2 linked regions of the Homo sapiens genome follow. The protein of the gene in region 1 interacts with the protein of each later gene in a biochemical or structural test. Each region holds a gene or a part of one and is shown on either strand. Other genes may lie near its edges. The genes, in order: DHX16 and RIGI.

Region 1 (3,822 bases):
GGTGTTCCTGACAGGACAGGTGCCTGACATGGTGGGGAGAGGGGATGATGTATCCCAGGGGAAGACAGGGCCGGCATGTTGGCCTTCTGTGACTCTGGGACCCCTGCTGCTCTCCCTACCCTCTATCCAGGAGGAGATTGAGGCTGCCTGTGAGATGCTCCAGGATCGCTGCCGCCGCCTGGGCTCCAAAATCCGGGAGCTCCTGGTGCTGCCCATTTATGCCAATCTGCCCTCTGACATGCAGGCCCGTATCTTCCAGCCCACACCACCTGGGGCACGAAAGGTCAGTTGGAGAAACCCACACTCTTCACCCCTATGCTTCCCACAACTAGTAGTGAAAAAGCTGTGTGCCTGCCCCATGCAAGGTGAGTCCTGCGCACTGCTGCACACAGCTGAGGAGCAGCCAGTCCCTTGTTCCTGGGACTGAAGAGAGGAGAAATATGGTGTGAACCAAGAGAGAGCCAAATATGTGATCTGGAAAGTATGCACAGTAGATTCAGTGGAGAAGGGAAGTCCTTGATGTGCTAAGAGGTGGGATTTGATATGGACCTTTAAGAGAAATGTCTGAGGTCAGGTGCGGTGGCTCACGCCTGTAATCCCAGGACTTTCGGAGGCTGAGGTGGGCGGATCACTTGAGGTCAGTAGTTCGAAACCAGGCTGCCTAACGTGGTGAAACCCTGCCTCCACTGAAAATACAAAAATCAGCAGGGCATGGTGGCGTGCGCCTATAATCCCACCTGTTTAGGAGGCTGAGTCATGAGAATCGCTTGAACCCAGGAGGAGGAGGTTGCAGTGAGCTGAGATTGTGCCACTGCACTCCAGCCTGGGTGACAATGCGAGACTCCATCTCAAAAAAGAAAAATGGCTGAGAAGTCATCAGAGGAAGGCCCAAGGTATGTTTGAGGTCAGAGTGTGAGCTAGTAGGCTTAGTGGGAGGTTCATGTGGTGAAGGAGTAGGAGACAAGGCTAAAAACAATTTGGGGCTAAGATTAGGGAGGGCCTTTGATGACAGGAAAGTTTGGACTTTATTTATTTTTCTTTTTTGAGACAGAGTCTCGCTCTGTTGCCCAGGCTGGAGTGCAGTGGCAAGATCTCGGCTCACTGCAGCCTCCACCTCCCAGGCTCAAGTGATTCTTGTGCCTCAGCTTCCCAAGTAGCTGGGATTACAGGTGTGTACCACCACCCCAAGCTAATTTTTTTTTTTTTTTTTTTGAGATGGAGTCTCACTCTGTCGCCCAGGCTGGAGTGCAGTGGCACCAACTCTGCTCACTGCAACCTCTGCCTCACAGGTTCAAGCGATTCTCCTGTCTCAGCCCCCCAGTAGCTGGGATTACAGGTGCCCTCCACCACGCCTGGCCAATTTTTTGTATTTTTAGTAGAGATGAGGTTTCGCTATTTTGGCCAGGTTGGTCTCAAACTCCTGACCTCAGGTGATCTGCCCACCTTGGCCTCCCAAAGTGCTGGGATTATAGGCGTGAGCCACCATGCCTGGCCAACACCCAGCTAATTTTTAGTAGAGATGGGGTTTCGCCATGTTGGCCAGGCTGGTCTTGAACTCCTGGACTCAAGTGATCCGCCTGCCTTGGCCTCTCAAAGTGCTGGGTTACAGGCATGAGCCACTGTGCTTGGCGAAGTTTGGACTTTAGACAGCTGAGTAGCAGTCAAAGGATTTTGAGCAGAGATATAACTTTCATTCAACAAATATTTAATGAGTTCCTTCTGTGTGTCAGGTACACAGGGGTTGATGATACAGTGATGAACAAAACAAAGTCCTTAGCCTAACAAACTTGCACTTGTGGTCTATCGGGGAAGCAGTGGATGCATAAATACATATTGTCAATTTGTGGCCAGTGCTATGAAGAGATACAAGGCAGCATAGTAGGATGGAACTTGACTCTGTGGGGTGGGAGTGAGGACTGGCATGAAGGTATTTTCCTTGGGGTGTAGGGAGGGCCTCTTCAGTAAGGGGAAAGTGGAATAGAGACCCAAACCAGGTGAGGGAGGGAGCCAGGCTGATATCTGGGAGAAGAGTATGCCAGACAGAGGGAATAGCTGATGCAAATGATCCAGTGAGGAGTGCACTTACTTGGGCAGAGCAAAGCAGTGTGTGGGAGGAGTGAGGGAGGTGGTGGAGTGCTAGCAGATGAGGTCAGAAAGGCAGCTGGGGTAGGTGATCCAGGCTTTTAAGGGGCTTGGATTGAATTCTAGAGTAGGATAGGAAGCCACTGAAGGATGGGGAGTGATGTGACAGGTTTGTATTTTAAAAGGACCATCCTGGATGCCATGTGACAGAGGCTAGGAGCAGAAGCAGGGATACACGTTAGGAGGCTCTTACAGGAAGTGTTGTGTGAAGACGAAAGCGGTGATGGGGAGGATCGGGCAGGAACTTGAACACCCCCATTTCCCATCTCTGAAAAAAAAAAAAAACCCTAAATCCTCTTCTCCATTTCCTTTCCTCCTATGGCCCTGCTGACTCCCAGCCCCCACTTCCCTGTCCCCTGTCTTCTGGCCTTGTCCCCTGCTCCTGACCTTGGATACTACTAATTCCCTCAGCTCCTGCCCCTTACTGCAACTGCTTCACTACTCCTAACTTTCCAAGATTACTTTTTCTGGGTAACTAGGTAGGTGGGGTCACTGGGTGACCCCATATCCTATCACTCAGGTGGTTGTGGCAACGAACATTGCTGAGACATCACTCACCATTGAGGGCATCATTTATGTGCTGGATCCAGGGTTCTGTAAGCAGAAGAGCTACAACCCCCGCACAGGCATGGAATCGCTCACTGTCACACCCTGCAGCAAGGTCAGCCTGGGGATGCATGGGAGTGGGGGAGGTGGAGTTGGCCCACAGAGAAGGTCCAACTCAGAAGCAGGGTGGGGGCTTCCTAGGGAACCGGGATGAGCAGTTTGCATCCTTCCAGATTTCTTGCATAAATACTGCCTTTTTCTTTTCCCTGACCAAATTGTCAGCCAGCCTGTTCCCCTTTCTTTCCAGGCCTCAGCCAATCAGCGAGCTGGCAGGGCAGGTCGGGTGGCTGCAGGGAAGTGCTTCCGCCTGTATACCGCCTGGGCCTATCAGCACGAGCTTGAGGAAACCACAGTGCCTGAGATCCAGAGGACCAGCTTGGGCAATGTCGTGTTGCTGCTCAAGAGCTTAGGTGATTGGGCTACCTGAGAGAGGAGGGAGGGGCTGGAGTCACTGTCCTTTGAAGGGACTCTGTTCCATCCATCACACCTCTTTCTAGGGATCCATGACCTAATGCACTTTGATTTCCTGGACCCTCCACCATATGAGACACTGCTGCTGGCTTTGGAGCAGCTGTATGCTCTGGGAGCCCTCAACCACCTTGGGGAGCTCACCACGGTGAGTCGGGGGACAGCATGGGTGGAGGCAGGATGATAGGGGTCAGGATGGCTCCAGGGACCCCTGTAGTAGTAGCGGGAAACCTGAGGGAGGACTGGGCTCAACTCTCTCTCTCTTCTCCTTAGTCTGGTCGAAAGATGGCAGAGCTGCCGGTGGACCCCATGCTGTCCAAAATGATCTTAGCCTCTGAGAAGTAAGCCCTCGCCTCCACCTGGGCCCCCAGCACACAAACAGGCCAGGCCTCCTCTGTCTCCAGGGTCCCCTTTGTCTGTCTTTTTCTGTTCATCATACTATCCCTTAACACATAATAAAGTATTAGATAACTCTGATTGCCCCCTTTTGAGGCCCACAAGGGTAAGACACTTGATCCTATCCTTGATTCCACTGCGCCCGGCCCCTTGAGGAACTTACTTGTTCCTAAGGTTTCCAACTAGAACATTTAGATGTAGCTGTGGAGG
Region 2 (3,822 bases), on another chromosome or scaffold:
AAAGTATCAAACTGAAATTCACCAGATTATCACATCCAGACAATGAGGCCAGGCCCCTCATTCATCATGATTGCTTCCTGAGTTCCTGTTTTCCCACACAGTTACATTTCTTCCCTGCTATATAAACCCCTAATTTTAGTGGGTCAGGGAGATGGAGTTGAGACTAATCTCTCATCTTCTTGGCTACAGCTCCCAATTAAAGGCTTCTTCCCTGGCAATACTTGTTGTCTCCCTGTTTGGCTTTCTGTGTGGCTACCAGGAGGACCTAGGCCAAACCCCTGGTGCTTCAGTAACAGATTTTTGTGGCTGGGTTGCTGTGGTCTAGGAGTCTCAGAAGCCCTCCTAAGCAACTGCCCACCCAATTTTGGCTGGAAGTGAGTTTTGGTCTCTCTGGCCCTGCTGCTGCCAGCCCCAGCTGAGTTCCTGATTGCTAGGAAGAACAGCCTTTGAAATGTGACACTGGCATCTGGATAAGTGAGTGTCCTTTCTTGGCCCAGACAGCAAGATCTGCTCAATTTGAAAATTTTAAAAGGAGCTTCCATTTGCAGGTTAAACCAGCCCAACTGACTAAGAAAGGGAAGCACCCTGACTCTCAGTATGATACTCTAGAGAGCGTGTTTGTAATTTCTGTGTTTGTGTCTGGCCAAGTTAGTGTCTTTTTTGGGTACCAGACAGTGGGATCGGCTTCTCTCAATTTGGAAAATTCCTAAGAAATTTCTGTTTGCAGGTTAATAAAGCCCGATTGAGAGAGAAAAGCACCTCGACTGTTTCAGTTTGGACACTGTTCGGGCTTGTCTATTGCTTCAGCAGTCGGATTGTGTTTTGTTGATTGTATGTGTCAATATAGTAATGGGAAATTAGAATTCAACAAACAAATATTCTTTTGTACTACGTTTGCCCCAATATTCTTTGGAATCTGGAGTTGGCTGTTGAATGGGAAAGCCAGGTGGAGTCCCATGTATTCTGGCTTTTATGCCGCTGTTTTAAGCAGGGTTGGGCCTGGTGAGTAGTTTCCACATGACGTTCTTCTGTAGTGCTGTTTGGCCCCAGGTTTCTTTGGAATCTAGCTTCTAAAAATCAAACTGCCATGGAAACTGCTTTACCCAAAATTCTGGTTCACAGCCTTCATTGGATTACCGATTGGAGCAAACAAATTTTAGCCATGTGGACTTGGTTGTAGATTCGTGAGTTTGTATTGCTATCTCATGGCTAGAGTTCCAAGGTAAAAGCTGTTGGATCTTTGTGTGTGTATACATGTTTAGATGTGTTTATCTAGATGTACATTAACTATGTTATACACTATACCTACCAAATTGGCTTATAAATAAGAGTGCTCATAAATTAAGTCCAAAGTGTTTTTCAAGTTCACATGACTTCAGTAAATCTTTAATAAACAAGCTGTCTTTAAAATTATTGGTAAAATAAAAATAGAAATGTCTTCAGAATTGTCAGCATACATTTTTGTCTCGGCTTTATATTTGTCTCAGCTAGATAATTTGAGGTATCAGAGTTTGGCAGCAGGTTATAAAGCTATAAACCCAGTGAATATTTGTGTGAATTCTTTATAAGACTAATTTAATGCTGTTAGTTTAATGAAAACAGCTGAATCTTCTGAGTTATTGATCAAAATGCCCACGTATTAATTTTAAGGTTATTTAGGTGAACACCTGACATTCACAGGTTATAAAATGGTTAAGAAGGAAATGATGCAGAAATAATCTAGATAAACTGCTAAAAATAAATAAAATGTAAATGGTCAAATGCTGTAAATGAACTTTTGGCATAATCGGAAATATAATCATTGGATGTTTGAGTCATTTCCAATTAAGAAAAGGTTATGATGTGGGGAACATGTTTCTAAAAATTGTGGAATGGTTCTCATCTATAAAATACTAATATCTGCTAGGCAGCTCAAGATTTCTTGCTTCCTAGGTTTTTACTGAAATTTAAGGTTGTTACTAAGGATAAGAATTCTAGTTCATATGTAATTCTATATATAAAATGTGCAAAAGACAATGTGTTTTTATTCAGAAAAAAATTTTATCTAACTCAGAAGTTATCTAAAGTTTATTAATAATTATGGACTTGAAAGGTTACTTATGAAACAAGGTAGAAAAGAACAAGTAGACGAGAGAGATGTGGAGAAAGTTATGAGTATAAAGATGTATTTTTGGTAAGGAAGGTTATAAAGAAAATAATTTTGTATGACAAAGCATCTTATAATGGTATTTTTTTTGTCCTAAAGTAAAATGACTGTTTAAAAAAAAAAAAAGAAGAAGAAAAAGAACGAAAATCCAGGACAAATCAGAAAGTCTAAGCATATCATAGATGGTGTGTGTAAGTCATGTAGTTTCTTTCCTATTTCTTTGTGTGTCTACCTTTATGTACAGACAGAGAAAATACAAAGTATAAAAGGCTTAAATAATATTCTCTTAAAACCAGATAGAATATTGGAGAAATCTGGCTAATTAACACTGCTCATAGTTAAAGCTCTTAGTCTTGATGAAAGTAAAATAAGAAATATTGTAAAGAAACACATTGGCAGTTTGGCAATCCTTTCTTAATATAGTTAACCATGAAGCCAGATAAAAGCCAGATATAGCAACAACCAAATTTCACCTACATGCTTGCATTGCTTCACACTGTATTTGCTCTTCTGCATAGATATACTATCATTACAGTATAATACTTACTGGTCGGCCTCCTCCAGAGTAGCTGGGATTATAGTTGTGTGCCATCATGCCTGGCCAATTTTTGTATTTTTAGTAGAGATGGGGTTTTACCATGTTGGCCAGGCTGGTCTCAAACTCCTGGCCTCAAGTGATTCACCCATCTTGGCCTCCCAAAGTGCTGAGATTACAGGCCTGAGCCACCACGCCCAGCCTAAAGTGAATTTCTTAATTGCACAAAATATATAGTGGTATTGGTGAACTTAAAGACATTAAATTGTGCATCAGGAACAAAATATTCATCATGTGTTTTTTTGGCTCTGGGTAACACTATAGCCTCCAAGTTAAACTGAGTAGAAAATTTTCAGGTTGGTTTCCTGTTTGTTTTTTCTTTTAATTTGCATTTATTTGCTGTTTCTTCTTCTTTAGGTTTTACTTATATATACATATTAATAAAACCATTGATGGCTTTTAGTTTCTAATGTAAGGAAGGCTTTTATTTGGTTCCATGAATAATCATTTTGTTTCCTATGCATTTCCAGTATCTCATCATTTGCTCTACTTATCCAAAGTTCCTAAGCTACCTTTTTCAAGCTTCCAAAAATTGTTGGTGGACACCAGCCTTTAAAATTTGTTTGGTTTTGCTTACCTCTAATGAACTAGAGAGCTATAAGAACTTTAAGATTCCTGGCAAAAAATAATAAAAGGTTTATTCTTCTAAGTTCTGAACAGAAATAGTACATTATTATTGGTTATTTGGAAAAGTAGGTGAGAGAAATGTTTAAGTGGTGTTTATTTCCAAGGTAATTCAATTCAATAAACAATAGCGGTTTCAGATCTTTTCCTTTAATGAGGCAAAACTGCTATATGGGTACAAAGTCTTAATATTCAGAAAAAAATTGGCTTTGTCTTTAAGGAAATTATATTGATTGGGCTTTCTCTCAAACTAATTTAGTTGTGTTTACTATTATTAAGATTAAATAACATTTACTTGGATTAAGTCATAAAAAAAATTATAAGACTTTCTAGTGTTTTTTTTATCCTAAGCCATTTATCACTGATGGGCCTTCACATGTATACTTGAAAACAAAATATGTACATACAAGTGTTATGCCAGTTTGAAGATTCTAGTGGTGTAAGTCACTTAAATCAG

Evidence for each region.
Region 2: the proteins of DHX16 (region 1) and RIGI form a complex in vitro, tested with the Homo sapiens proteins (one study listed by BioGRID).

What each region holds. Positions count from the first base shown.
Region 1 is NC_000006.12:30,655,933-30,659,754, reverse strand, and holds part of DHX16 (pre-mRNA-splicing factor ATP-dependent RNA helicase DHX16), read left to right. Parts: coding exon 1-19; intron 20-130; coding exon 131-283; intron 284-2,662; coding exon 2,663-2,803; intron 2,804-2,995; coding exon 2,996-3,158; intron 3,159-3,245; coding exon 3,246-3,364; intron 3,365-3,489; coding exon 3,490-3,557; intron 3,558-3,822. UniProt on the Homo sapiens protein: Required for pre-mRNA splicing as a component of the spliceosome. Contributes to pre-mRNA splicing after spliceosome formation and prior to the first transesterification reaction.
Region 2 is NC_000009.12:32,516,126-32,519,947, forward strand, and holds part of RIGI (antiviral innate immune response receptor RIG-I), read right to left. Parts: intron 1-3,822.